Linked DNA regions of Homo sapiens. The protein of the gene in region 4 purifies or fractionates together with the protein of the main gene of each other region. This does not show direct contact. Each region holds a gene or a part of one and is shown on either strand. Other genes may lie near its edges.

What was found.
Region 1: the proteins of DEFA1 (region 4) and ERAP1 purify together in Homo sapiens (affinity purification with mass spectrometry, with the first as the bait; 2 studies listed by BioGRID). This does not show direct contact.
Region 2: the proteins of DEFA1 (region 4) and COL14A1 purify together in Homo sapiens (affinity purification with mass spectrometry, with the first as the bait; 2 studies listed by BioGRID). This does not show direct contact.
Region 3: the proteins of DEFA1 (region 4) and BMP1 purify together in Homo sapiens (affinity purification with mass spectrometry, with the first as the bait; 2 studies listed by BioGRID). This does not show direct contact.
Region 5: the proteins of DEFA1 (region 4) and HS6ST1 purify together in Homo sapiens (affinity purification with mass spectrometry, with the first as the bait; 2 studies listed by BioGRID). This does not show direct contact.
Region 6: the proteins of DEFA1 (region 4) and CACNA2D2 purify together in Homo sapiens (affinity purification with mass spectrometry, with the first as the bait; 2 studies listed by BioGRID). This does not show direct contact.
Region 7: the proteins of DEFA1 (region 4) and MANBA purify together in Homo sapiens (affinity purification with mass spectrometry, with the first as the bait; 2 studies listed by BioGRID). This does not show direct contact.

Annotation. Positions count from the first base shown.
Region 1 is NC_000005.10:96,794,421-96,798,299, forward strand, and holds part of ERAP1 (endoplasmic reticulum aminopeptidase 1 isoform b precursor), read right to left. Parts: intron 2,890-3,879; coding exon 2,755-2,889; intron 743-2,754; coding exon 622-742; intron 1-621. UniProt on the Homo sapiens protein: Aminopeptidase that plays a central role in peptide trimming, a step required for the generation of most HLA class I-binding peptides.
Region 2 is NC_000008.11:120,369,464-120,373,342, forward strand, and holds part of COL14A1 (collagen alpha-1(XIV) chain isoform 1 precursor), read left to right. Parts: coding exon 1-22; intron 23-872; coding exon of another isoform or gene 873-904; exon of another isoform or gene 905-1,273; coding exon of another isoform or gene 1,274-1,371; exon of another isoform or gene 1,372-1,688; coding exon 1,689-1,768; 3' UTR 1,769-3,879. UniProt on the Homo sapiens protein: Plays an adhesive role by integrating collagen bundles. It is probably associated with the surface of interstitial collagen fibrils via COL1.
Region 3 is NC_000008.11:22,203,098-22,206,976, reverse strand, and holds part of BMP1 (bone morphogenetic protein 1 isoform 3 precursor), read right to left. Parts: intron 124-3,879; coding exon 1-123. UniProt on the Homo sapiens protein: Metalloprotease that plays key roles in regulating the formation of the extracellular matrix (ECM) via processing of various precursor proteins into mature functional enzymes or structural proteins.
Region 4 is NC_000008.11:6,976,996-6,981,408, forward strand, and holds DEFA1 (neutrophil defensin 1 preproprotein), read right to left. Parts: upstream 3,098-4,413; 5' UTR 3,018-3,097; intron 2,166-3,017; exon of another isoform or gene 2,131-2,165; coding exon of another isoform or gene 2,122-2,130; intron 1,652-2,121; coding exon of another isoform or gene 1,640-1,651; coding exon 1,465-1,639; exon of another isoform or gene 1,334-1,464; intron 885-1,333; coding exon 775-884; 3' UTR 654-774; downstream 1-653.
Region 5 is NC_000002.12:128,266,675-128,270,553, forward strand, and holds part of HS6ST1 (heparan-sulfate 6-O-sulfotransferase 1), read right to left. Parts: intron 2,197-3,879; coding exon 1,488-2,196; 3' UTR 1-1,487. UniProt on the Homo sapiens protein: 6-O-sulfation enzyme which catalyzes the transfer of sulfate from 3'-phosphoadenosine 5'-phosphosulfate (PAPS) to position 6 of the N-sulfoglucosamine residue (GlcNS) of heparan sulfate.
Region 6 is NC_000003.12:50,371,075-50,374,953, reverse strand, and holds part of CACNA2D2 (voltage-dependent calcium channel subunit alpha-2/delta-2 isoform b precursor), read left to right. Parts: intron 1-140; coding exon 141-217; intron 218-1,868; coding exon of another isoform or gene 1,869-1,889; intron 1,890-3,879. UniProt on the Homo sapiens protein: The alpha-2/delta subunit of voltage-dependent calcium channels regulates calcium current density and activation/inactivation kinetics of the calcium channel.
Region 7 is NC_000004.12:102,631,674-102,635,552, forward strand, and holds part of MANBA (beta-mannosidase precursor), read right to left. Parts: intron 3,373-3,879; coding exon 3,115-3,372; intron 609-3,114; coding exon 384-608; 3' UTR 1-383.

The DNA.
Region 1 (3,879 bases), on a different chromosome or scaffold from region 4:
CTCAAGTAATCCACCTGCCTGGGCCTCCCAAAGTGCTGAGATTACAAGACATGAGCCACCGTGCCCGCCTTTTCAGGCCTCTTGACTCCATTTCTAACCTTCTGATGAGGAGTTTGGAAATTGAAAAACTAAACAATTATAATAATCCATTCTATTTTGGATGCCCAAGACCCACATATACCTAAAAAATCAAACATACAATAGTTTTAAGGGCTTGTGTAAGAAAGAAAATTCAGATTGTCTTACACTATATAAATTTATTCATTCAAAACAGTTTGTTGAGCATCCTCTGGGTTCCTGCCAAGCAGGTGCCAGTAAAGAAAAAATGTAGCCTCTTCCCTCTGCTGTCTGCCCACTAATAAAATCAGAAGGCAAAAGAGTCCCCATGCCATATGCCTCAAGAACTCTATGAAGATCTGCTTTCTTCACTATCACTAGAAGTTACTGTACTCATCAAGGGTGAGGAGATGCTCAGAAAGATCAACCGCAGGTTTGTCACTTGCTGGGGTTTTTGTGGCTTGAGGGGCTGCTGAGGCAACTACAGGGATGTGCCAATTATAATGACAAATCTATGACTGTGTTCATCAAATGTCATGTGTAATATCTGTGCAAAATCTCTACCTTGTTTGGGTAGGGGATACGGTATGCTGAAATAATCCTCATAAAATTCTAGAAGAGTCACCGCAGCATCCAGTGCATAATCTGCTTGATTTATCTTGTCTGGCACAGCATAAACAGAAACCTAAAGAGAAAGGCACAGAAAGGAATTCAAATATCTTAACTGGCTTCTCTCCCCACATTGTGTAGAAGACTGACATTAATGTCTTCATATTGTGGGATATGGTTGCCAATATTAAAGAAAATAATTGGGAATTCCATTTCTTGCATTAATACTGACTGTTCCTGATTAATCCCCCTTCTGAAAACAACAACAAATGCTGGATAACATGTATAAAGTGTTCTTAAATGTGTTTATAAGATGGCAAATGAGAAAGAAAGATTTAGAAGCCAAAGTGAAATGACAGTTAGACCCTCTGATGTCAGGAGAGCACTGCAGCCAGCTTTAACCCTGCCGGCACTAGCCCAACACAGCTGGACTTGAGCTTTGGTTCTTATGTCATTGAAGGACTCAGGAGTTAAGAGACCAAGTCCAGGGCCTGCCCAAAGTAGAAAGTCTAACAGGACATACAATCCCTGCATAAAGCTAGTACCCAAAGGCCAGGCCTTTAATGTAAAGGTAAACTAGAAATAACTACCCTTTCTCAAGGAAACTACAAGTAAAGTGATCCCTGGACCAGTAAGTACTCCCAGACACTCTGTAAGAGCAAATACAATTTCTCTCTGGAATAATCCACTTTAGACTCAGGCAACGTAAGCTCACAAACATAATTCATAATACAAACAAGGAAACAAGATACCATAAGCAAGAGCCAGCAGAAACAACGAACCACAAAATCAGATACACAAAGAATTCAGATAAAACAATTACCAGACACAGATATATAATTGTATGCTTAATGTGTTTAAAGAAATGAAAGAATTAAAAATATTAATATAGATTAGACATTACTAAAATAATCATTTCTAAGAGATTCAGATAAGTGGCAAAGCAATGGGCGGGTGTTTTTGCTGATAGTTTCACTGCTGAATTAAGAATGTTCCCTTCATCCGAGTCTCAAGCGTCACCTTCAAATCCCCAGTTAAGTAAAGATACCTCCACAAGAATAAGAAATCTCAGCACTAGAGGAACACAAAGCAATTCAGCAGGGAATCCCCATCTATTCAGGCCTCAGTGAAAACCAGCACAAACACATAAGGTATCTTCAAACAAAGCATCCCTTCCTCCCCTCAGAAAAACCTGTTTGCATTCTGAGCTACGGCACACAGTTGAATAGGTTGCCCACTATGCAACAGTACCCAAATGAGGAACAAGTGTGCCTTGAAACAAGATTTTTCTCTCCAGCATTCCAGTGTACCTGGCCCAAAGCCTTTGGGTATTCCAAGCAGGTTGCTCTATCTTCCTTACCATAGCCAGAAATCCCCTGCCAGATAGTAACATTTACTTCCAAACTGCAGAAAGCCATAACCAGAAGCAACCTTAGAGACCATTGCAGGATCTAGTCCAAGTTATACCTTCCAAAGAAGTAAATACTAAGTTTCAGAGGGAATAGGGCCAAGGTCAGAGAGTCAGTGAAGTGACTGCAGTGAAGCCAGGATCATGACTCAGGCCAGGCCACACTCTCTCCACGTTGTTGTTATTAGAACCTCACTATACAAATGAGCATCCGTGACAACAGGCTGGCCAACCATCCCAGTTTGCCTGAGATTGAGAAGGTTCCCAGGATGCAGGACTTCCAGGATTTTGGTATTTGGTTTTGTCTTTGTTTGTTTGTTTAGAGACATGGTTTTGCTCTGTTGCCCAGGCTGGAGTGCACAATCATACCTCATTGAAGCCTCAAACTCCTGGGCTCAAGGGATCCTCCCTAGTAGCTAGGACTAGTAGCAGGCACAAGGAACCATGCCTGGCTAATTTTTTTATTTTATTTTTTGCAGAGACAGGTTCTCACTATTTTGTCCAGGCTGGTCTCAAACCCCTGGCCTCAAGTGATTCTTCCACCTCAGCCTCCCAAACTGTTGGGTTTATGTTGGGTTTACACGCACGACCCACTGCGCTCAGGCAGACTTCCAGTTTTAAAACCAGTTCCAAGCAAACCAGAACAAGCTGGTCACCATATGTGACAGTCATAGGCTCACCTTGACTCCACTCTTGGTTATCTTGCTGACAGACTCAAAATCTGAAATGATGAAGGCCACCAGATAGGTGCTCATCTTCACAGTGACATCAAAATGGTCTTCTATGAGTCCTTCAGCAACAGTCACAGATTTCACCTAAAATCAGAATAATTCAAATTATCAAGTAATCCAATTATCCAATACAGTGAACATGATAAATTTCCTAATTATCAGACATAATATTAAAAGTGTATCAATCCCAGCACTTGGGGAGTCCGAGGTAGGCAGAATGCTTGAGCTCAGGAGTTTGCGACCAGCCTAAGCAACATGGTGAAACCCTATCTCTACAAAAAAAATACAAAAATTAGTCCTGCTGGTGGTGCGTGCCTGTAGTCATAGCTACTGGGGAGGCTGAGGTGGAAGGATGGCTTGAGCCTGGGAGGTGGAGGTTGCAGTGAGCCAAGATTGAGCCACTGCACTCCTGCCTGGATGACAGAGCCAGACCCTGTCTAATGACGCTTCTATAGTTACTTTAAAAGTTATCTTTCCAATGTCTAATTATAATTTAGACATTAACGTCAAACAGTTCTACTCAATTTCTTTTTTATTGAGATATAATTCATATACCATACAACTTACCATTTTAAAGTTTACAATACACTGTAAATCCACATTTGGCATATGTGGATTGATAACACGGATGAGACAAAGCAAAACTGAAATTGTGAGTTTTGCCAAGATGTGGCTGATCCACTTTTCCTTAAATACAGGTTTGAGAATTATCTGGCAATGCAATGTCGAGCTGTTGAGCATATACGCAACGGGGAAAATATATAACCCTGTAGTACCTAAAAGAGCTTCTGTTCTGCTGTATAACTGAAAGTAACCTGGGCCGGACACAGTGGCTCACACCTGTAATCCCAGCACTTTGGGAGGCCGAGGCGGGTGGATCACAAGGTAAGGAGATTGAGACCATCCTGGCTAACACGGTGGAACCCCATCTCTACTAAAAATATGAAAAATTAGCCGGGCGTGGTGGCAGGTGCCTGTAGTCCCAGCTACTCGGGAGGCTGAGGCAGGAGAATGGCATGAACCCGGAAGGCAGAGCTTGCAGTGAGCCGAGATCACGCCACTGCACTCCAGCCT
Region 2 (3,879 bases), about 110 Mb from region 4:
TGTTCTGCCTATGGTGTGAGAGGTAAGTGTCACAAAAAGCCCCGCTTGTGGGCTTTGATCAATGTTTTAGTATGCTTAGTACCAAAATGGGAAGATAGTGCTATGAAAAAAGTTAAATTGGTTATGAATGGGAAGCAGAGCTTGAATGCCTCACTTCCTTAAATTATCCCGAGACATTTTCTATAAAGTGCAAATTGCTATAGAGGCTACTCCCTTAAAAACCTTAAGAGCAAATTCAAAATAACAGCACATCTAAGTCTTCCTTGCTTCCCAGTGATGACCTACATAGACTTGGCCTCTGACTTTGTATTTAGCACATTTGGAGGACATGGTTGAACATTCTTTTGGAGTCTCCATTCTTATGTGACAGCTGTGATGTGGCCAAGACGTCCCATAAAATTTTACTCTTGGTTTGGGGAAATGTCAAACTTAGAACTTCTCCCGTAATTAAGAGGGCTCCTTAGATTATTTTCAATGAAATCATGCATACCACTTGCATTTAGGTGCATTTAAGCACCACATTTTAGGTGACCAAGAATAGTTGTGAGAGGAAACAAAAATCATGCTGTCCTTGTCTTATCACTAGCTACTGGACTAAAAGAATATGCTTCCTAAAACATCTGCAGTGTGCATGCTGGCGTGCTGTGCAATGGCCCCTTTTCTGACATAGTCACTCTTGGAAGCATCAAGGGAGAGGCTGAGGGACTGCTGTGGGGCCATGAACTTACTAGTTAATGGGTTTAAAATTTTCTGCTTCAGTAGAAATTTAACCTTAGTTATCACAGGAATTGGTCAACAAAGTTTTGCTGATGTGTTTTTCTCTGTTCATCTTTTCCCTCCCTGTTCTCTCAAATACTCCTATCCTTATTAAGATCTGATCCCCTACAATGATTACCAGCACTGAAGTGGAAATCCTCCACTCTGGTTCCATTGGCCCCAGACATTTAGCTGTGGATACAGAACTGTCCTGTCAACCACCACCACCACCAAGCCCCTGCCCCTAACAATGGACACTCTGCTTCCCTGCTTCTTCTGCATCCCTGCCTTCCCACTTTCAAACCTCTTGCCCACTCTGCTCCAAACATGATGGAGTGATAACATCGGAACTTAACCAAATCATATATGTCTATTTTAATAGACACTGACTGCTCCATGTCAGCCTGGATAGAGGTATATGATCGTGTGCCAAGAATTTATCCCAGACTCCCCTGTGTGACAGCTTCATAATAAAGTTACTTAACTGTGCCTCTTCCTCCTTCCTCTCCCCACACAGGATGGATGGGCATCTTTCTCCTTGACCACCCTACTCTCCCTTCCTCCCCTGATCACCTCCCCTCCCTGCTCTTCCCTGGTGATGGACTTCTAACATGAGATTTTTTAAAAAAATTTCTATTTCTTTTATAATTTTGCTGAGTTTTCAGGGTTTCTTCTGTAAATAAAACATAATATTTAAATGGTTGGTTATGATTCTAGTTTTCTAACAATTTCTGTAATGTATCTTTCCCTTCGTCTATTTACTAACTGTCTGAAACCTTATGGGGAAGGTACAAGGGGCGTGGTGGATTAAGACATCCACTGCTTTTTACCCAGCAGGATATCTCTGTGTCTCTAAGGACCCAGGTGAGGGGAGAATATCAATTTATGATTCCTGGGTGCAGCAAGTCCCCACCCCCACTTTTCCTCTTTAGCTCCCCATCCAGATCAGCCAGAGTTCACCCCTGTCCAAGATGAGCTGGAAGCCATGGAACTGTGGGGCCCTGGAGTCTGATAGCCTCAGGAGAAATTTGAAGACCAACTGCAAGAACTCTTAAGGAATCTTGTTTGAGAAAATGTTGTTATGTGGTTTGTATGCTACTTTTGGGGGGCAGGGCTCATTTCAGCAGCCTAAATCTCCTCCTTGGATAATGTTAATATTATTATTATTATTAACAAAAAATATATATTTTTAAAAAGTTCCCTTAATCTATGACATGGTAGCAATGATTTCCCTTTGGTGTCTTAATGGCATGTCAGATAATTTGTTTTTCCAGAGAAGAGAGCTCAAAGAGGAATTGGGAAAAATAAATTGAACTCTGGAATCTTCTCTCTCAAGTCCTAAAATGAACAAACAGATATGATTGTGTTTGAGGGAAATATGTCCCTAGCAGGAAAAGAATTCAAAGAGGTTCAAAGAATATGTCACTTACTCCTACTTGCTGTAGGAATAACCTTGCTGATAAGAAAAAAAGGGACAATATTGGAGAAACTACCTCTTGTTTAATTGATCTGTCCAACTCTGAGATCACTTGGTAACTGGTTTCATGTGTATCCAAAAATCAGCATTTGGATTTAAGCTTTCTGAATTTGGTAGTTTAAGAAACAGATTTAGTTTTTCAGTGGTTTTAACTCATGTGAAATAATGATTTTCCACCAGCTCTGATGCAAAGAGATATAATTTTAATGAACGATTTATCCAGCAGTGTGTTCCAGGGGTTGCCTCTCCTTATCTACGGGGATTACTTTGTACATGCAGATAAGTTTTCGCAAACCTATTTCCATTTTCTTTTGTAAGCAAATAAAACTTTAAAACAATGTATGTGGATTCTTTTTCCTGCATTTCTAAGTATCACCTTAAGCTTTTGTAGTCTTAACTGAGTGTCCACCAGAAAGACAACAGTTGTCTTCCTTTAGGTAAGCATTCAAACTTTCATTCATTCGTTTACTCACTCACTCATTCATTCATTCTGAGTGCAGTAGAAAACAGAAGAAGCAGTTAACTTGGGACTAAGAGATTAGCGACATTTTATTGTTCATTTATAATCTAGCAGGCAGCAAAGACCCTGCAAATGCATGACCTCTGCTAAATAAATGTTTATCAATAGTTGACTGAGGAGCCCACCTATCTTCTGATATTGAGGAAAGCCTAAAAACCCCTAGAAGGCAGAGCAGAAATGAGGTTGAATCTAATAGACTCTAACCCTTAAACCATACTTTGTCTTTTGCTCACAAAGGAAAAATCTAGGTATTTGAGAAAGATTTGAATTCTATTATGTGCTAGTTGAAATAGAAACAAAAGAGAACCATAAATTTAATACGTGCTCCTTCTCTGTAACATCTCCCTAGTAACAGCTAACTTTAGAAAGTAGGGATGGGATCATTTACAACTAGAAGCTGGATTCTTTCTGGATCAGGAAAAGGCTAACACGAAGGATGGTGTCTGTCTGATCACCAGGTTCTCTTTCTGTCCTTCTCATAATCTCCTGATCTTTGGAGATGAAAGATCTCCTTTCATCTTCATCTGAAGGATTCTTCAGATGATTCATCTTCAGACTTCATCTGAAGGATTCAAACAATCTACTTGTGTGCCTTTGGTGGGGTGGGGCAGGGGCGGGGGGCGGTTCTAAACAAATCAGTTTTTTTGGTGTCTTTGCAGGGAATGAAAGAAGATAATGAGCAGATAATCAGCAGCCATTTCCTTTCAGTTATGGTATATGATTCTGCCTGAGAAAGCAGGATTTATGGGAAGGAAAACTTGTCTAAGGCTCATCAAGATGGCCTGACCCAGAGTCACCTAAGAGAACTCTTCCAACTTAAATGACTAGGGTGTGTAATCAGTTGCTTCTTATTCTGTGTCTCAGATTTCCTAGTCCATGACATTTAATAGTGAGTATAGAGTAGGATATTCTATACATTTTAGTATTTGGCCCTTGGAAACAAAGTTAAATACCATGTCACTCAGAAGACTCTCAAAGTTTGTGTATAAATGGCGAAGTATACACTATGAGAGATTCTAATCCATTCACATCATTCTTGAGTTGTGCAAATACACTTGGCTTTGATTTCACTTGGTGATCTAAATTTGTTTATTTAAGCTGCAAGAAAGTTACATTAATTTGGAAT
Region 3 (3,879 bases), about 15 Mb from region 4:
TGACCCGGTGCCCGGGGGTGCTGGAGATGGCCCACGTGCACTCCTTCTTGCTGGGATACTTGTCAGGCCAGTTGGGGCTGGTGATGGTACCACTGGTGGATGTCACCTTGTGGTCACAGCCGGCTGCAGGGAAGCGAGTGACGGAAGGGGATAGAGAGGGACCCCAAGCTCCGATGCCTCCTGTGGGGAAGGCCCTTCCCTCCTGCCCCCCCTCCTTTCTTCCATCTCTTGTCCCACTTATGAACTGGATGGCAGGCAGGCATCGTTTCTTTTTCATGAGGTTACTGCGTCTGGGGAAAATCTAGCTGCCCGATTCCTACAAAAGCCTTGAGTGAGGCCTCACATGGCAGCACTCATGAAGCAGCCATCGCAGGCTCCCTGGACAACCCCCAGACCTTTGTAGGTGTTGGGCCACAGGGGTCATATCACCTGTGCCTCTCCATTTTTCTTTTCTTTCTTTCTTTTTTTTTTTTTTGAGATGGAGTCTCGCTCTGTTGCCCAGGCTGGAGTGCAGTGGTGTGATCTCGGCTCACTGCAACCTCCACCTCCCAGGTTTAAGTGATTCTCCTGCCTTAGCCTCCTCAGTATCTTGGATTACAGACGTGCGCCACCATCTCTGGCTAATTTTTGTATTTTTAGTAGAGACGGGGTTTCGCCATGTTGGCCAGGCTAGTCTCAAACTCCCGACCTCAGGAGATCTACCCACCTTGGCCTCCCAAAGTGCTGGGATTACAGGCGTGAGCCACTATGCCTGGCTAATTTTTGTATTTTTAGTAGAGACAGAGTTTCACCATGTTGGCCAGGCTGGTCTCGAACTCCTGGCCCCAAGTGATCCACCTGCCTAGGCCTTCCAAAGTGCTGGGATTACAGGCGTGAGCCACTGCACCCGGCTGACCTGTGCCCCTCCTTGAAGCTGTCATCCACTGATCTCCAGCAGCCTGGACAGTCACAGGGGACTTTGACACCTGACTCAGTTCTCCCCACCCCCACTCCTGCTACCCTCCCAGGTGAAGTCAACAGACATATAACGGTCCACCCAAGACGGCCTCTCGGTTCCTTGAGGGCTTTGTCATCATCCACTGTTTCTTCACATCACAAACACATCACCCCTCTGTGGCCACCTCCTGTTCCTTCGGGGTGCTCAGGACCTCACCTTCCTGATCATGGTCATTTGGCTTTATTAAAATTAAAAAACAAAAACAAAAATGGGTCCTCACTTTGCTACCCAGGCTGGAGTACAGTAGTGCGATCATAGCTCACCATAGCCTTGAGCTCCTAGGCTCAATTGATCCTCCCGCCTCAGCCTCCCAAGTAGCTGGGACTACAGGCATGCCACCTGGGTAATTTTTTTCATTTTTGCTTGTTGTAGAGATGGGGTCTCACTATGTTGCCCAGGCTGATGTCAAACTCCTGGATTCAAGCGATCCTCCTGCCTCAGCTTCCCAAAGTGCTAGGGTCACAGGCATGAGCCACTGTGCCTGGCTGGCCTCTTAATTTTAGAGAGACCTCCAGGGTCTTGATCTTTCTATTCTCTCCCACTATTTCCTCCTCGATTGACTTAACTGACTGCAGGGCTGACCACCCAGCCTGCTCCTCTGCACCCTGCGTGGCCCTGCATCCCCGGCTCTGCACAGCACTATCTTAGAAAACTCCACCTGTGGCTCCAGCCTCACCTGGGCCCCCAGACCACTTGATACTCTTTGGATTGGCCTTTACCAGCTCCATCTCTCACCTCCTTAGTAACTGCTGCAAACATCCAGCCCCCTCCTCAAGCCACTGTGTCAGCTCCCAGTGGCAGACCACCTCTCTCCTACCTCCTGACAAAGCCAGGGCCTTCCACCATGAATGGCTTCAACCTCTGGACTCCGACCTGCAAACCCACCTACCCTGCTACCCTGCTGCCCTGAAGCCTCAGAGCAAGTGTCCCTCCTCCCCGTCAGGATGGACTGCCCTTCTGGGAGGTGCAGCTCATTGCTGCCCACGCGTGGGAACCCTCACACCACAAATGATCCAGCCTCACGCTCTCACTCAGCTCTGCAGCCTCGGAACCTTCACACATCCTGAAAGAGCTCTCCCAGGCCCCTCCAGCTACAGCCCATCGCTCTCCTTTTGTTTCCAGCTAGCCTTCGAGAACACTCGCTATGGCCACACTCTCACGGCAGGTCTCCTCAATCCACGGCAATCTGACTTCTGCCTCTGAAAAGCATGGCTTCCCCAACTCAATTTCTTTTTGCGGGGGCGGGCGGGGTGGGGGGGGACAGGGTCTTGCTCTGTTGCCCAGGCTGGAGTGAAGTGGCGCGATCCTGGCTCACTGCAACCTCTGCCTCCCAGGTTCAAGCGATTCTTGTGCCTCAGCCTCCCAAGCAGTTGGGACTATAGGCTTGCGCCACCACGCCTGGCTAATTTTTTGTATTTTTAGTGGAGACGGGTGTTGCCATGTTGCCCAGGCTGGTCTTGAGCTCCTGAGCTCAGGCAATCTGCCCCCATCAGCTTCCCAAAGTGCTGGGATTACAGGCATGAGCCACCACGCCCTGCCCCGACTCAGATTTACAAGCTGATGATCATTATTCATGATGACATTATTGGACAGCTTTCACTGGGGGAAACAGGCGGCCAGGCACTATGACTGGTGGGGAGAAGGATGGGCAAGATACAGCACGAGGGCCCGGAAAACAGGGCCCTCTCAAGTCCCTGGTAGAGGCAGGTGAAGCTCCCGTCTACCCACACTTGAACCGTGAGCTGTCACCATTACCCATCGGTGGGTTCACACAGCCCCCTGCCCTCCCTCTTTGCGCTCTGGCCTTCCACGCCCCCTGTGTTCCTTGCACGCCCATGTCTCTCCCCAGCTAGGCTGCAATCTCCGTGGGAACAGAGGGGTTCCTGTCTTGAATCCCCTACAGATCTTTGCATAGTGCTGGGTCCTCCATAGGAATCAGGAAATGCTTACAGATCTGTAATTAACCTATCACCTGAGTAAGAAACCACACATGCTTCTAAGGTGAATCAGCAGATGGAAAGGTAAACAGGCCATCTTCTCCAGGAGCTTCACCCCTGTCCTGGCTATCTTGTGGATTCTGTTCTTTATCAAACCATCTTTTTACACAGGGGAGTACAGAGACAGAATGCAGTTTAGACAATATCAGTATAAGGTCCCCTCTAGCTAGTTCCATGACTCAGGAACTGTGTATTTGGGAAGCCTGAGGTCACAGGGTTGGAAGCCCTCGACTGTCCACTGGTTCACTGTTGAGGGCTTCGGTTCTGTTTCTGCTTGTGAGCAGCTCATCTGTTTAAACCTGGGTTGTCAACCTAACCAGGGTGGGAAGAGTCACTTGCCAAGCATGGTGCTAATGGCTCAGAGCCATGTCTATAAAGCTTAGTACCCTGCAAGGTAGGTATCATTTTTATTATTTTTTATTTTTTGAAACGGAGTCTTGCTCTGTTGCCCAGGCTGGAGTGCAATGGCATGATCTCGGCTCACTGCAACCTCCGCCTTCCAGGTTCAAGCAATTCTCCTGCCTCAACCTCCTGAGTAGCTGGGATTACAGGTGCGTCCCACCACGCCTGGCTAATTTTTTGTATTTCTAGTAGAGACGGGTTTTCATCACGCTGGCCAGGCTGGTCTTGAATTCCTGACCTCAAGTGATCCGATCGCCTTGGCCTCCCAAAGTACTGGGATTACAGGCGTGAGCCACTGCACCTGGCCTATCATTTTTTATCGTTTCATGGATGAGGAAACTGAAACACAGAGAGGTTGAGTGACTCACCCAAAGTCACACAGATGTTCAATGGTAGAGGCAAGTCTGTGTTGTGCTGCTGGGATTGGACACACCCAGCAGGCAAGGGCCACAGTGGAATCCCTGACTTAGAGCGGGCCTGTGA
Region 4 (4,413 bases):
AGGTTCTCAGCAGCTTTAGGGTAACACAAGAGGGTGCGCGTTGCAAAGTGCGGTGGAGCATTTGTGTGTGTGTGTTTTCTGGGTGTGAAGACAACTTTATGATTGTGAAATCCAGGTCTTAGTAGACGTGGCTGGAGGGTCCTCTTAATGAGGACGTGCCAATGTGAGATGCTGTGCTTTCTGTTCCATGTATCCCGCCTTTGCTAACAACCCATTTCCCTCTGAATGAAAGTTTTTTCCGTGGATCTCATGTAACCCTATGTCTTAAAAGGAAAATGTACAATCTGACATTGTTCAATGAAACTCCAATTCTTTAGCACAGAGGATGGTTTTTTTTTCCCGGAGAAGTAATGATTTTGTGACTGCATGAAATGTAAGCTGACACCGATTGTTTGCCCAGCACACGCGAGCTCTTTGAGAGTGGATCCAGAGAAAATGAGGCAGGGTGAAAAGGCAGAGCAGTGGGTGGGGAAATCAGTGGTGTCATATGGGCCTTCTTTTCAATTTGGATCTGAAGCCCAAACTCCTGCTTGAAATTCCTAGAATTTGGAATTTTATATTGTTCAAAAATTTGATTTTGCGTTTTGGTACGTGTATCCCAAGTGTCTTGACACAGACACATATCACACATTAAAGAGGTGGAAACACAGAAATCTTGTAACAAGGCATTTATTTGGGATGAGGAAAGGAAATTGAGCAGAAGGTACAGGAGTAATAGCAATTCCCTGTAGCTCTCAAAGCAAATTTTGAGCTCATTTTTCTTTTTCTGCAAGCTCAGCAGCAGAATGCCCAGAGTCTTCCCTGGTAGATGCAGGTTCCATAGCGACGTTCTCCTGCAATGCACGCTGGTATTCTGCAATAGCAGGCCATGTTTTTCCTTGAGCCTGGGACAGGGAGAGCATGAGAAATTGAGTATGGAGTTAGCAGTGGGTAAGAAAAAGAATCTCGGGGAAGTCACATGCTAGCTGACAGGTGATGCTGGCTGCATTGCAGCCGTTAGCACGAACAACCTCAGTCGATAGGAATAAACACGCAGAGCAGTGCTTGTCACTCAGAATTTGAGACTCATTCTCCTTTGCTCTCATTTTTGCATTCCTGCCCCATCACACACACACCTGAACATATCCTCAGGCTTGGCTGCAGTTTTTAAAAGCTCTTCTGTAGATAGAGTAAAATGTTCTCTTTACAACTAAGTCTACTTGTTTAGATCCAGAAATAACTAGTCTGTCTCTTCATATCTGAAACTTAGTGAATTTCACAGACGTTTCTTGGAATCAAGTCTTTGGAGAAATAAAGTTTCTCATGTTTATTTGGCTCTCTGTTCAATTTCTAGATGAGAAAATCAATGCCCAGAGATTCTAAGTGAAGCCACCTCAGTGACATAGACTGCTGAGACCCAACTCTGGAACCTCTCTCCCGTCCTTCCCTCTAGACTTAGCAGCTCTGCATGCCTGCCTCTCTCACCTGGATGCTTTGGAGCCAAGCTTTCGTCCCATGCAAGGGAAACAACCACTTCTGGGATGTCCGCTGCAATCTGCTCCGGGGCTGCAGCAACCTCATCAGCTCTTGCCTGGAGTGGCTCAGCCTGGGCCTGCAGGGCCACCAGGAGAATGGCAGCAAGGATGGCGAGGGTCCTCATGGCTGGGGTCACCTGGAGGAGGGAGAGCAGGAGCAGCTGTGTGGGGAGGGAGGAGCCAGCCTGGATTTATAGCTCTACTGGGAGAAGGCTCGGAGACAAGAAACCTTCCTCAATCTCAGTGAGAGGAGGTGTGCATTTTATAAGAGAGGCCCATTGGTCTCAAGGTTGCTCGAATGCTCCTGTTCTCCCAGTTTCATGCTAGTATACATCTGTACCTTTAATGTCTGTGCTAGGTTGGAGCTAATAATGACAAGAAAGACCCTGCTATGTTACTCGTGGGTTCACCTGCTTAAATATTATGATTCACTTTTTAACATTCCAAAAAGAATAGAAATTGCACTTTGATTCAACAGGCTCAGGGAACAAATGCTTCTTATTTTCTGAAGATGGGTCCTGCTGTTCTCTGGAGGTCTAGATTCTGGTGTCCTATATGAGTTCCAATGGAATAGCGAGTAATTCACTTCAGGATTCAGGTGACTTACCATCCTCATGAAGAGGTTTTTGAGGTTATGGGGTGAGTAGTCTCCTGTAGGAATCAGGGTGGAGAGGACAATGATTTTATCAGGCTAAAGGTGAAATCAGCTCAGTGACACAGAGTGGTTTAAGTAAAAAAAAGAAAGTTTATTATTTCCACCTCTACTTAGACTTGAGTAACAATTAACAATTGTATATTTATAGTGTACACTACCTCATGATTTTATATATGTATGTATTTAAATCTTTATCTCACACCATGTAGAAACATCAACTCAGAATGAATTGAAAACCTAAATGTAACAACTGAAACCATAAACTACTAGAAGTGTATAGAAGGATAAAGCTTTTGACATTGATGTAGGTAATGATTTCTTGGCTATGACACCAAAGGCACAGGCAATAAAAGGGAAAATAGACAAGTGTGGCTTCATTTAACGCTAAAGCATCTGCACAGCAAAGGAAACAATCAACCGAGTGAAAAGATAACCCAGAAAATGAGAGAAAATATTTGCAAAACCTACATGGCCGAAGGGGCAAATATCTGAATACATAAGGAATTCCAACAACTCAATAGCAAAAATCAAACAACCTGATTGAAAAACAGACCAAGGACCTAAATAGGTTTCTCTCAAAAGAATGTTCCAAAGACCTGTGATAGTCTCTACTGGACATGTCAACCAGGACATGTGACATGTGTGTTTAGAAGGAAACTGCTTGAGTTTCTCTATTAAGTTAGCTGGAAGCCATCGTCCCCAGCAGTCACCAGAGGTCCGGACAGACGTTCCTAGCAGGGATTCGCCCGCTGGTTCCCTCTGGGGTGGCCCCACAGTCAGAGGTCAGATTGGAGGCATAGCTTCAATAATGAAAACTCAGTGTAAAGTTTAAGTTTTGTAGTACTTACAGATCCTCTAGCTAGGCAGGGTGACCAGAGAGGGCAGACAGCAGTCCTCTGTCCCAGGTCTTCTATAGCAAGGAGCAGCCGTGCACAAGTGGACTTCCCCTATTTAAAGGTCTTTTGGGATGAGGTGTCCTAATTTCCGGGGTTACTTTCTGTTGGGTCCATTAAATAATTGTGGTGGCAAGGACAGTTGAGAAATTTGGTGGGAAGGTGAGGTTAAAGTAGAACTCCACAGAGGAACCTCTCATCTACCTTGGTCAGCCCTGGCCAGGCCCAGGCAGCAACCAACTATGGATTCTCAATGGCTCCTAACACAGTTGACCCTGTGATGCATTGGCTGTGGCTAAGCTGAACTACCTGCACCAAGGGAATATTTAAGGCCTCTGGGACAGCCTGGCTGCGTATCACAGTATACGCCCTGCAAAGAGATTGGGATAGGAATGCCACCTGCACACAGAGGAGGATTTGGAATGTGTTTCTAAAGCAGTGTCCCGAGGACCTGGGGTCTAACCATAAAAACTAATGAAAGCCATTTGGCTGAGCTGGGATGTTGGAGAACACCCAGGTGAGACTGAGTGCTACCTGGGCTTCTGTTGCTATGTGGAACAGACATTTTTGGGTTCTCCTGAGTACTGGATGTACACGCGGCATGTGGTTCCCCAGAGGTGACTATCACCTGTTTGCTTGGCCAATGAACAGTTTAAGCTTAAACAATTGTCTAGGATCATCTGGGCCAAGAACTGGTCTGAGGCATTAGCCATCAGGGTGGGAGTGGCCTTTCCAGATGGCCACCCAAGAAAGGAGGTGGGAGTCTGGGCATTCACTTTACTGCTGGTGTTGCACAGCCTCTCAGGCCTTGTGGGCCTTCAGAGAAGCATTCAGCAAAAGCTTGAGTGGTGCTTTCTGGGAGGCATAGGAGTTTCCATCCTTCACTGGTACACATCGGAGAACAGGTGTATCCCTGAGCCCATGATCATGTCTGGATGCTTTCTGTGAATGCAATGCTCCAACTCTTCAGGCTGCAGTCTGGGTGTGTGCTGCGGCGTCATGAGCCCATTTGGATTGAAGCCTGTGCATCCAGAGAACTACCTCCTCATCCTTAAAACACGATCTGTGGTTGTGAGGGCTGCTGGTGTTTAAGCATTGGTGCCATGGGACCCATTCAATATCTAAGGGTTGAGTTGCCCGCCTTGGACACAGGTCAGGTTGTATCTGGGGTGCAGCCCCTGTAACAGGGCTTACAGGGAATTCCCCAGTTTTCCAGTCTGGGGTACAAATTCTGACTAGGGCTGTCCTGTTCCAGCAGCCCTCTAGGCTGCCAGGCCTGGGTTAAACAGCTACCCCACAAGCCATTTGTACATAAGATACCAAGCAAGGCCAATCATAGAGAACACTGACA
Region 5 (3,879 bases), on a different chromosome or scaffold from region 4:
CAGGTGGCCTGCAGAGCCCACTGCCCTACCTCTGAGTCAGCCTGCGGCCTGAGCACACCAATCTACTCTCTGGGGGATCCAGGGTGCCTGTGTGGGCCCTCCTAGAGACACCAGCTTGGCCTCCTAGGGCATAAGGAATGGGGACAGGGCACAGGGCACGTGCTTACAACGGATATGCAACATGGCTTTTGGTAGGGCCATTGCAGCCAGTGGGGAAACCTGCGCGGCTGCTGGGAACAGAGCATGGCCAGCCTTTTGCCAGGGGGTGGGGAGCATGGGGAAATGCAAGGAGAGCCAGGGTGGGGAGGGCTGAGTGTCTGTTGTCAGGGAGGCCACCTACAGCTGTTTTGCCAAGGCTAGTTGAGAATCTGAAAGCTCGAGTCCCAGTTCCTGGCCATACAGAGCCACTGTGGTCCGAGGGTACGGCTCCTGGGCAGGGGCTATGGTCCCATGCTCCAGCCGATGGAAGCCTGATGAACTTAATCCGTACGCTGGTGGGAGCAGTGGTATTTGAGCTCTTGAGTATGTGTTTCGGTGATGGGGCTGGGGCAGCCTGCTAGCAAATCCCAGTGGGTCAGAAAGGAGAACAGAGGCAGGGGAGCCCTCGGTCCCCAGCCCTTCCAGTCTGAGCCAGGCCTGCCTGGATGGTCACCTCCAAGGGCCAGCCGCGGACTCACGCACAAGTGGCAGCATCCCTGGCCAAAGCCTCCCCACTCCTGGGCTGCCAGTTGGCCCGAGGAAGGCCGGCAATGCAGCTCGGGCCTACTACCCAAACCCCTCCTTGGTCTGAGGACTGTAGGGAGTGGGTGGGGCCTGAACATCAGCTTTGGCCTCCTGACCCAAAGCATGAAGCAGGACCATGGGCCAGAGAGGGGAGCAGGCTTCCTGGGGGCTGGACTCGAGTCTTCTCTGCCTCAGATGGGGTGGGCCCTGACTTTGAGGGAGCTACAGATGGGTGAGCTGGGGGCTCCCCAGGCCTCGGGGCATTGGGGGCAGCCAGAAGAGGAGGGGCTATGGGATGGCCTGGAGCTGGGGCAGTTGCCAGAAGCTGGTCTCACTCCTAGTAGCCCGGACAGAGGAGCTAAGAGCGAGTGCTGTGTGCATAGTTGGTGAGGGACACACTCCCGGCCTGGCAGGTCCACTTTCCGCTGTCCTCGTCTCTTGCGCAAACCTTCAGTTTTTGCGATAAATCCAAGGAGGCCAGGAGAGCAGCTCCAGGCACAACACCTGCTCTGGAGGCCCTGCCCTGACCATGGCATCCTTCGAGCACGCTTTCCTCTGACCCACTGGGCTGCACCTGTTGATTTCTCAAGCCCCCATCCCTGCCCAGCCCCACTACATCCCTGCTCTGTTTTTTTTCAGGACGCAGCTACCTCTGTGGAGCAGGTTTGGGATGCTCATCCCTTGACAGTCTTGGGTGGACCTGTCGTCTGTCCTGTTTTATCCCCCACACCCCCCAAGAGGCCTCCCCGTGGCCACCACCGCCACTACCACTTCTCAATGATGTGGCTCATGTAGTCCTCGGTGGGCACGCGGCCCGGCTCGTCGGCATCCTCCCGCGGCAGTGCCTCCTTGGCCCGGTGCAGCAGACGCTCCTCGCGGCTCCTCAGGCGCTGCTCCCTGCGCTCCAGCTGCCGCTTGTACTGGTAGCGCTGCTGGAAGAGGTCCTTGGCGTAGTCGTACAGCTGCATGTCCAGGTCGTTGAGCTCCTCGATGCGCCGGATGGTGTCTTCATCCACCTCCACGCCGCCCGCCCGCGTGCTATTGTACTGCATGAAGGGCCGGATGAACTTGAGGTTGAACGTCCGCTCGAACAGGTACTGCGTCTTGCGCTGGAACTCGGTCAGGCCGAAGAAGGCCATGCCCCGCAGGTTCTTCTTGGCGCTCTCGAGCAGCAGCTGGGCCCGCTTGCCCTCGGGGATGAAGGACAGGTTGTAGCAGCCCACCAGGCTCAGGTCGGCCAGCATGCGCACCTGGCGGTTGTTGGCCAGGTTGTACGGGCAGTCCATGAACTCCTGTAGCGTGCAGCCCGACCAGTCCGTGCCCTCGTAGCAGGGCGGCAGCTCCTCAGGCGTGGGCGTGCGCCCATCACACATATGCAACGACGTCTTCCACGTGGCACCCCTCTGCACATGCCGCCACTCGCTCAGGTAGCGGGACACGGGGTCTCGTAGCAGGGTGATGTAGTAGAACTTCCTGCAAGGAGACGGGGAGAGGAGGTGAGGGCTGTGACGCAGCATGAGGGGGGCTACCAGGGCTGCTCTGAGTCAAAGTCCCCACTACAGGAGTTTGGGCTTCGCCTCTAATGCCAACCAACTCCTGCACTTAGCTCTCAGTCGTTTCAAAACCCGGTATCAGAGATGCCAAGGAGCATGCCACGGTCACATGGCTACCCAGGATGACCACCACAGTGCCCTGCAGCGCCTGGCCTGGCTCCTCTGGAGGGACAACCTGACTTTTTCCTGCTGGTGGGTGGAGCCACCAATACCGCATCCAGAGAAGTCGCAGAGCCACAGCCGCCTGAGGCCAGCAGTCTTCACCAGCTGTTTACAGCCTGGGCATGGTGCCACCCAAAGAGCCACTCAGCAGGAACAGAAGGTGGGCAGGGGCCAGCGAGGGTCACCTCCAGTCCCAGTCCCAGGGTCCTGCCAAGGCCTGGTGGTGGTTGGGGGGGGGGTGCCCAGCGGACCAGCCAGCCCAGGACCCCAGAGGAAGCCATGACGTATACACCAACTCTACTTGCTGGGTTGTCCCCCAAGACACCAACGCATTGCACAGTATGTAACGGTGCGTGCACAAGGGAGAAACGACCCAAGGAAGACTCCACCTCCCACCCTCCCCTGCGCGGCAGGAGCCCAGCATGAAGCATGTCCTTGCCAGGCTCGCTATGACGCTGGGCTGGAGGCGTCAGGACACTGGACAGGTGGGTAAAACGTGGTGGCGGCTGTGGATATGCCCGGTGTGTGTGTGTGGGCTCAGCCCCGGGAGAGGCTGCAGTCATTCTTAGAGGGCTCCTCCTCCTGGCTCCTGTCCACGCTGGGGTGGGTGGGCTTCAGGCCAAGTAGAACCAGGGCCAGGCAGGCAGCCTAGGAGCCCACAGGGCCCCTCACTGCCCGGGGGAGCAGCTCCAGAAGGGCCCTGACCCCCCGCCAGGATTCCCCAGATGGCAACATGGAAGTGTACCCACACTGCTCCCCTCCTCCCCTCACACTGCCCTGGGCAGGGGTGGGGGTGGGGGGCATGGAGGGACCCCGGGGAGCACAAAGCGCTTCTTGGTGTCCGCTGGCAACTGCCTGATCTGACCGCACACCTCCCTGCAGGGAGGGAGGCACAGTGCCTGGCAAGTGGTGCGGTGCCACTGCAGGCCACCCCCGCCTATGAGGACATGTCAGAAAGCCCCAGGGGTGGCAGCTCTGAAGCAGGCGGGGTAGCCAGTGATGGCTCCAGGGGCAGGCAGCAAGGCCAGCACTACTGCATGCAGACTGCCGAGGAAGGGACAGGCAGCTGTCATCCGCCCAGTGTTTTCTGTGGCCTGGCAGGCTCAGACCCTGCCCTGGAGGAGCTCTCAGCAGATGGGGTGGAGGAAGGACCCAGCAGGACTGAGCTGACGACCCCAGGGTCAGGCACGGCTGGTCTCCAGGGGGCAGATAAGCTGTGGGCAGCAGGGGCGAGAGCAGGCCTCAGTTTCCCTGCTCCAGGCTCCCACTTCACACGTCCCAAGGCACACCTGGCCCTCCCCAAGCACCCTGCACCCACAGCCTGCCTGGTACCACCCATCCATGCTGATGGCAGCAGCTCCTGGGCACTCGGGGCCTCAAGGGCCAGAGGGCGGGACCTTCTTCAGGTAGCAGGTGAGACAAACGTTTTAGAAACAATAAT
Region 6 (3,879 bases), on a different chromosome or scaffold from region 4:
CTAAGCGGGGAGAGGGGTCCCTGGTGGTGGGAGGAGGGGATGCTGCAGCTGGGGCCTCTGCCCAGCTCCAAGGCCATGGGGAGGGGGTGCCAGTGTGGCCCGCCTCCCCCCAGCCGTGACCCGAGCTTCTCCCCCCTCAGCCTGGGGCTGGTGCTCCCACCCTACAGCACCTTCTACCTCCAAGCCAATCTCAGTGACCAGATCCTGCAGGTCAAGTGTAAGTGGCCCGGCCCCTGCCTGCGCCCTGCACCCTGCCTCTGCCCCGCACCCTGGCCGGCCCCAGGCAGCATAGCCAGCGCCGCTTGCCGGCGAGGCAGTCCCTCCTGCCCAGTCTGCCCACCCTCAGGTGCCCGCAGGCTGGGGCACCTCGAAAGTCTGTGGAAATCTGCATGCTTGCCTTTTCTCAGATTCGGTTCCAGACCATTCTTTCATGGTTTCTGTTGAGGTTGCTGTTTTTGGTTTCTCCTACTCCGTGTCTTCCCTCCTTAGCCTGCCTGCCCCACACACTCCTGGGGGCTGCATTCTTGGAAGACACCCCCTCCCCTTACCTTCCCCCTCCCCTCCCCACCCACCTCCACTCCCCTTCCCCTCCCCTCCCCTTCCCCCTCCTCCTCCCCCTACCCTCCCCTTTCTCCTCCCCCTCCTCCTGTCCCTCTCCTCTCCCCTTTCCCCTCCCCTTCCCTTTCCCCTTTTCCTTCCCCCTCCCCTTCCCCCCACCCTCACCATCCCCCCTCCCCTCACCTTCCCCCCTCCCCTTTCCTCCCTCCACCTCCTCTCCCTTCCCTTCACCTATTCCCCCTCCCTTCAATTCCTTCCTCCTTCCCCTTACCTCCTCCCCAATCCCACCTCCCCTCTCCTCCTCCCCCTCCCCTCCTCCCTCTCCCTTCCTCCCCTTCTCCTCCCCCTCTTTCCCCTCCCCTCCTCTCCCTCCAGTCCTTCCCCTCCCCTCCTCCCCCCTCCCCTCCCCCCTTTTCCCTTCCCCTCCCCTCTTTCTCCCTCCCCTCCCCTCTTTCCTCTCTCTTCCTGTTCAGCTCTCTACCCCTGTGGTGCCCCCTTCCCATGGTGCCTCTCTCTCTCTCTGCCCCCTCCTCTCCATTCTTTCCTCATCCATCCTCACTCAGTTCCCACTTACCCTCTCATCCTTCTCCTCTCACTTCCTACCTCTCTCCCCTCTGCATCCAACCTCCCTCCCTTACGCACTGTCCTCTCTTCTTCCCTCTCTCCCTCCTCTTCTCCCTGCATCTCCTCTATCTCCCTCTTTCTCCTGCTCACCTCCTCCATCTCTCTCTCTCACTCTCCCTCCCTCCCGCTCTCCCCACCCCAGCACCCCCCCCCCTTCAGTCCCACTCCCCACACTCCCTCCGCTCTGCCCCCTGGCTCCCTCCTCACCTTCTTTCTTCCCTCCTTCATTCCCCATCCCCCTCCTCCCTCCCCCTCCCTGCTTTCTCCCTGGCCCCCCTCCTTCCTCCCCTGCCTCTCCCACTCCTCTGCCTGTGGCTCACCCCTGCATGCCCTGCTCATCCTGGGCCTCTCCTGAGAGAGTCTCTAGAGCCTGTGGCCCTGCCTGCCCACCACGCCCGAGGTCACTGGGAGGGAGGCTGGGGCTCCGGCCCCACCGGGCGCCCCCCACCTGCCTGGCCGACTGGGGGCTCATCTCCTTTGAGTTTTCTTGCTCTCTCTTTCTCTCTCATGTCGTTTTTTGCAAGAAGTTTCCTTTCGGTATGATGATGAGACACAATATTTTCATTCAAACAGCCATTGAATAAAATATTGTTTGTGCCCCTCCCCTTTCCCTCCCCCTTTTCGTTTGTTTTTGTGTTTGTGTTGTTTTTGTTTTCCTCGCTTTCTCTCTTGGTGGACTGTCCCAGTGCCAATCAGCAAACTGAAGGGCAAGTATATTCAGAACCAGTGCACCCTCCTCTTCCCACCCCTCCCATCCTCACGCCCCTGCTTGCCCCCCTCCCTGCCCAGGACCAGCCAAACCCCTGCTCTCCAGGGCCCCCTCCCAGCTTCCCCTTGGCTCCTCTAGTTCTTGCCTTTCCTCTGATTCCTAAGCCCCTATGAGAGCCAGTGGCCTGTGCCCCTGGCCCTGCCTGCAGGGTGTTCTCCGGCGTGTTCTCAGGGCCCACAACCCTTTCCTTGGACCCCTCACTCTCTCTGGGGAGGCCCCTGCCTCCCCCACCTTCTCTGTCCCTCTAAGACAACTCAACAGTAGGGACAGTCTGGACGCTTCTCCACCACCTCCCACTCAGCAGGGCTGGAGGCCTGAGATGCAGGGGGTAGATCAGCCCCTAGTGGGGCTCATGTGAAGCTGTGGGAAGGGGCCAGCCCACAAGGCCTACTCTGAGGTAGCTCTCCCTCCTCTGATCTCTGGCAGTAGCTTCAGAAGCTGGCAGCCCTCCAAGAAGGGAGGCAGAAGGCTCAGAAGCCTCACGCCCTGATGCTGGGGCCAAAGGGCAGCATAGGGCAGGCCCCAGCCATTGAAGAGCAGGGCTGACCCGCGCCTCCTGGGCACTGACACAGGTGCTGATGTCCCCGTGTCCTGCCGGCCCGCTGCTTCCAGAGGCTTTGCTGAGCCCCGGGGTGGCTTGGCAGTATGGAAAAGGTGTTTCCCTGGGGAAATAAAACCAGATTTGGGGACCAGGGGCCTGGACAGGGATGGAATGGGATCTGTTTAGACCCCAAGAGCCAGCAAAGGTGTTTGGAGGAAATCAGGCTGGGTATGAAAGGAAGGGTTCTGGCACACTGGGGTGCCTAAGCCAAGGAGACTTCTGGAAGAGTGGGTAGTGAACCCCTAGACCCTGGCAGAGAGTAAGGGGAGTGAGAGAGGACAGCATTACAAAGGTCTCAGAGAGCCACCTCTCCCAGGGAATCCCTGGGCAGATGGGGCATGGAGAGCCACAAGAGGATGTCCCCATGACCTGGAAGCAGGGGCACCCAAGAAGCCCTAGGGGCCCTGTCCAGCCTAGTCCAGCAAAGGGGATAAAGGGATCAGAGCCACCTCCAGTGGCCAGGGCGGGGGTGGGGGATGTGCCCTACTCCCACTGGCTTGAGTTGTCTTTTTCTCCCCACCCCCGCACATCCCACCCAGTGACCCCAGAAATGCAGGGCCCTAGTAACAATGACAACATAGCATAGTCTCCTTCCCTGCTCCTTCGCCCTCCTTTTTCTTTTTCCTCCTTCTCCTCTTCCCCCCAACCCCTTCCCCATCGGCTTGTGTCCAAACCCTGCCTCACAGTCCTATCAGAAAGGAACAGTCCAACCAGTGACTGCCCAGCCCCTCCAAGCACCCCAAGTGCCCCCTTCCCCAGAATCTTGCAGTGCATTGTGGGAGTATTTGGTATCAGGGACAATCTGTCTTCTATACAATTAAAGCCCTGGGAGCAAAAGAGAGCTCAGAAGTGGAGACAGGCTAAGAAGGTGGACCACCCACAGTGAGACAGGCCAAGAGCAGAGGGACCCCTCCCAGGTGCAGACCAGCAAGGTGGCCAGTCCAGCTGGGCAGGGAGAGGCCACAGAGGAGCCCCAGCGGCCACATCCTCAGGTTCACTCTCAAACCCATACAGAGATACTCACACTTAGGCACACACACACACACACACACACATGCATGCTCACTCACCCACACATGCACAGCTCATAAGCCCAGGGCACAGGCCCAACTGGGGATGCCTCAACAGCAGCCCTATGCCCTCTCTGGAGCCCTAGCATCCCCCATGGCTGCCTGGAGCCCAGACAGGTTTTAGGAAGGGTGGAGACCCAGCCCGTCTCCACGCCCTTAGCCAAGGGAAGCAGGTACAGTTTCCAGCAGCACCCCTGTCCTCCTTCCAGCTCCTCAGACTTTCTTCCCACACTGTGGGAACACTCCTTGGCACTTTG
Region 7 (3,879 bases), on a different chromosome or scaffold from region 4:
CTGTGAAAGACCTACATCACCTCAAAACCTTCCATTTGGTTCCATAGATCCTGCCATGTCACATTCTTGTAACCAGCTGCAGGGCCATCTTGTTATAACTGGTTCATGTCCTGCTAAAGCTGAGAGGTGAAGGGCTAAAAACACAGTCCTGGCACAGATTCCAGGACACCCCGGCACAGGCTTGTTTGAGGACATTGCCTGGGTAAACAGCCTCCCCTGAAAGTGTTCAGTGTACAACTCTTCACAGAGCAATCGCTCAAATGCGTGGCAGCACGCAGACATGTCTCTCGGCTTCTCTCCTTGTCTCTGTTGCCTTCCTCTCCAGTCGGTGCTTTAGAAATGCTTTATTCCCATTGTCCACTGAAAATACAACCTAGATTCCTTCAGTAAATATCTGTTAAGGAGGTCACATGAAAAGATTGCTCCAACTCATTCTTGCTGGTGGGCTCCCAAGGGTAAAATAATATAGTTCGTGTCTTCTCAGTCATGAGGAAACCATTGTCACTAAATCTCCCTGGGATGCTTCCTACATCCAACCAAACAAAGGGAGCGACAGCTGAGGTCTCCAGGTCAAAAACAAATATGTCACCTTGCTGAGAGATGATGGCCTGAAAAAGAAAAAAAAAAATGAATGAAGTGAAGGATGAGGGAAGAGTTATATAGTCTGTATACAGTTCCTGTAAACATTTATGTGGGCTTAACAAGGAGTCCACTTCCCACAACTTTGGTTCTACAACTGCTAAAGTGCAGTTTCAAACACAAAACAATACATGGAAAATGACTACAGGCTATGGAACGTTACCAAATTATAATCACAAATCAAGGAAATACATCGTCTCCAATCATTAAGGAGAATATTTCACAAGAAGCTCAAAGCTTTACATCTTTTACAGTTTTTCTCAGAGTATCATCAAGAGAGCAACATTTTTACATACAGCCTGGGTGGTTTTAATGACTTTCTAAGGATATATCTGGACCTAGCTACAGAGCCCAACTGTGGAGCTTACATTCAAGTCTCCTGAAAAGATCCAGCAATCTAGAAAGTCCACTGCCAGAAATTTACAAAAGCTCTACCATTAGAGCTTATCTCTTTTACTGCATAGTTAAGTAAAGTCACATTATTAGCATTTTTTTTACATGTGTGAATTCCACAAAATAGCAGCAAAAAGAGACAGTGCAATTTAAATCGTGTTGGCTCCATTCCTCTTAAGTAGCCGAATAGCATATGCCCAGAGTGAGGATGCGCTGCTCCCCAGAGTGGGAGGGTTTGCAAACCTCTCTTTGTGTGAGCACGGAGCTGAGTGCAACCTGGTTTCTTAATCTGTGCATTTGTCATGCAACATCTCAGTCTTACATTATATGTTATGTGTGACATAAAGAATTTCAAAGGGCCATTTTCACTATATATAATTTAGCCTTACATATTTGTGTAATATGTTATCATTCAGGGTTCTGAGTTATACACAAGGAAACCTATATTGATAGAAGCAGAAAAGAAGCTTAATAAAGCGTATCAGGTTGCTCTTCAGGATCAGAGACTCAGGCTTGAATTTGGATGGCAAATTCCCAGATCGCACCGCCCAGCTGTTCCAGTGAAGGTCCTAAAGCAGCCACAGGAACAAGGTTCATGCGGCTCATGCCAGCCTGCCCAGGAAGCTGCCAGGGTAGCATCAGCTTCTGCTGCTCCAAGACCAAGGCCGAAAGAGATGCTGGTGTCATGCTTATGCTGGTTATCTTCGTTGGATTGGAAATCTCCTCTCTGTATGTCTGACTGCAGAGCCTGGGATTCAAGCTTGCACCCTGGCTTCAGGGAGACAGGGAGAACAAGTTTCTGGCATCTCCCTTGAGAAAAGAAGCCAAATACCTAGTCTATATTAGCCCCGAATTAAACATTAACTAACAGTATTATTACTATCATTTTATCTCTTTAAGAAGGACAAGTCTCACTGAAATCAAAATGAGATAGAACAAAGAAAGAGCCCTGCTTTTCTCCCACCCCAATTACCCACCTCAAGGTAATGAAGGCCTAACTCAGGAAAGAAAAAAATTTGGTTTTCAAAATCATAAGTTTAGAGACTGAAAATTCATCCAGTACATAGTGGTTTTTTTTTTCTTTTTTGGAAAAAAATATATGTAAGACTGTCATTTTCTTCTGTTCTCTATTAGTTGTTACAGATAACTTGGATTTTATTATGTGACTATAGAAAGAAGGTATGTTTTCAGTTGTTAGGCTCTTTCAAATAAAACACAAGAATTAGGTGTTTTTATATGATTATTTCTAAATTAAATGTAGAAAATCCCTTTCTATGAAGTAAAAGTGTAAAACAAATTTAAAATTTTCTAAAAACAGAGAATGTAACTTTCTAGAAAGATATTTCCTGAGTGTCCAGAAGATAAGATAATAAAATTAAAAACATATATGTGTACATATATTTCCAACTGCTATGTGTAGGGGAGAAGGAAGGAAAGGTTTTCAACCTACTAGACAAATTCCAAATTCTCCAGCTGCACAATTTTTATAACAACACATCCTGATCATCCCATTTTTATATCTTGGCAATTATAAAAAGATTTGGTGATTGAGCTACTTTGAAGCAATAAATCAAAGAGACTAGAGTGAATATTAATAGACTCTACTTAAAATTAGACTGCGTCAGCTGGGCTCCAATGCTTCCCAGCTACAGGACCTCGAGCTCATCACTTAACCTCCTAAACTGGCTTCCAAACTTACAAAATGCAGATGATAATGCCTGGAGCTGTGGTGAAAGTCAGAGACTATGAGGTGAAGCACCTAGAACACAGCCTGGAACCTAGTGGGCATGCAGGCAGTGGTGATGACTCGAGCTTCCTCTCCCATCACTGCACCTGCCCACTAAGGAGGGGTGATGGGACAAACGAGTAGTGGTCACCAGCAACTCTGACAAATCCTGGATTCGAAATAGAAATCATTTGGTGTTTGCTTTTAGTGGGAAGAGGCCAATCTTCCCCCAGGCCTCAGGTAAACTCAGCACCAAGGGGGACACATGCAAATCTCAGGATGCAAGGAGCTGGCCCAAGAGCAGGAGAACCCCACAAGGCCACAGTCCCCTGCCCTCCGCCATGACCTGTGCTTACAGTGATCTGCGCCTTGCAGAGCCCCACGGCCTCCTTCGGTGAGGACAAGAAGTGGTAGTTGGTCGGGCTCAGGAGTTCATGGTCAGCTGAAAGGTAAAAGGAAACCACACAGCTTTCCCGTGTGCAATTCCCACATCTCCTCAGCAATTCAGACACTGGCTCCTCATAAAGGCAGACAGCCTCTCCTCCTTTCATCACAAAACGTTCAGTCACACGAGAGCACACGGGCTCCAGGGAGCTCCATGTATGGACTCTCACCTGGGGAGAAATAAAACAGAATAAAAACAGGCATTCTTGGTTGCTATGTTTTTAAGGAACAATAGTAGTAATAATTGCTGAAAGTCAGGTTAGCAGAAATGGTTAAGAGACTATGAAACCTGAGTTTTAATCCCAGTCCTGCAAAATACTAGCTATGTGACTAAGTAACTTCTCAGTCTTCATTTCTTCATATGTAGAATGAAAATAACAGCAGTAATGTCACAGGCTGTTGTGAGAATTTAAAAAATAATCCACGGAAGGCACAGTACCTGGTGCGTTGTAATTTTTCTGTAAATGTGACCTATTTTCAGTGTTATTAGTGTCCTCCAAACTATAGCCACCTAAGACTTTGAGTTTCTAGCCTTTCTTTTTACTTAAATTTGTTTTTTAAAACAAATTTGCTTTCCACATGCGCATTCTGAATAGTTTTACTGATTTTCACTATAACATGCCATTTTTAACCATTTCTTTTTATAAAGTTTGGACTATTTCCAGCCTCTCACAATT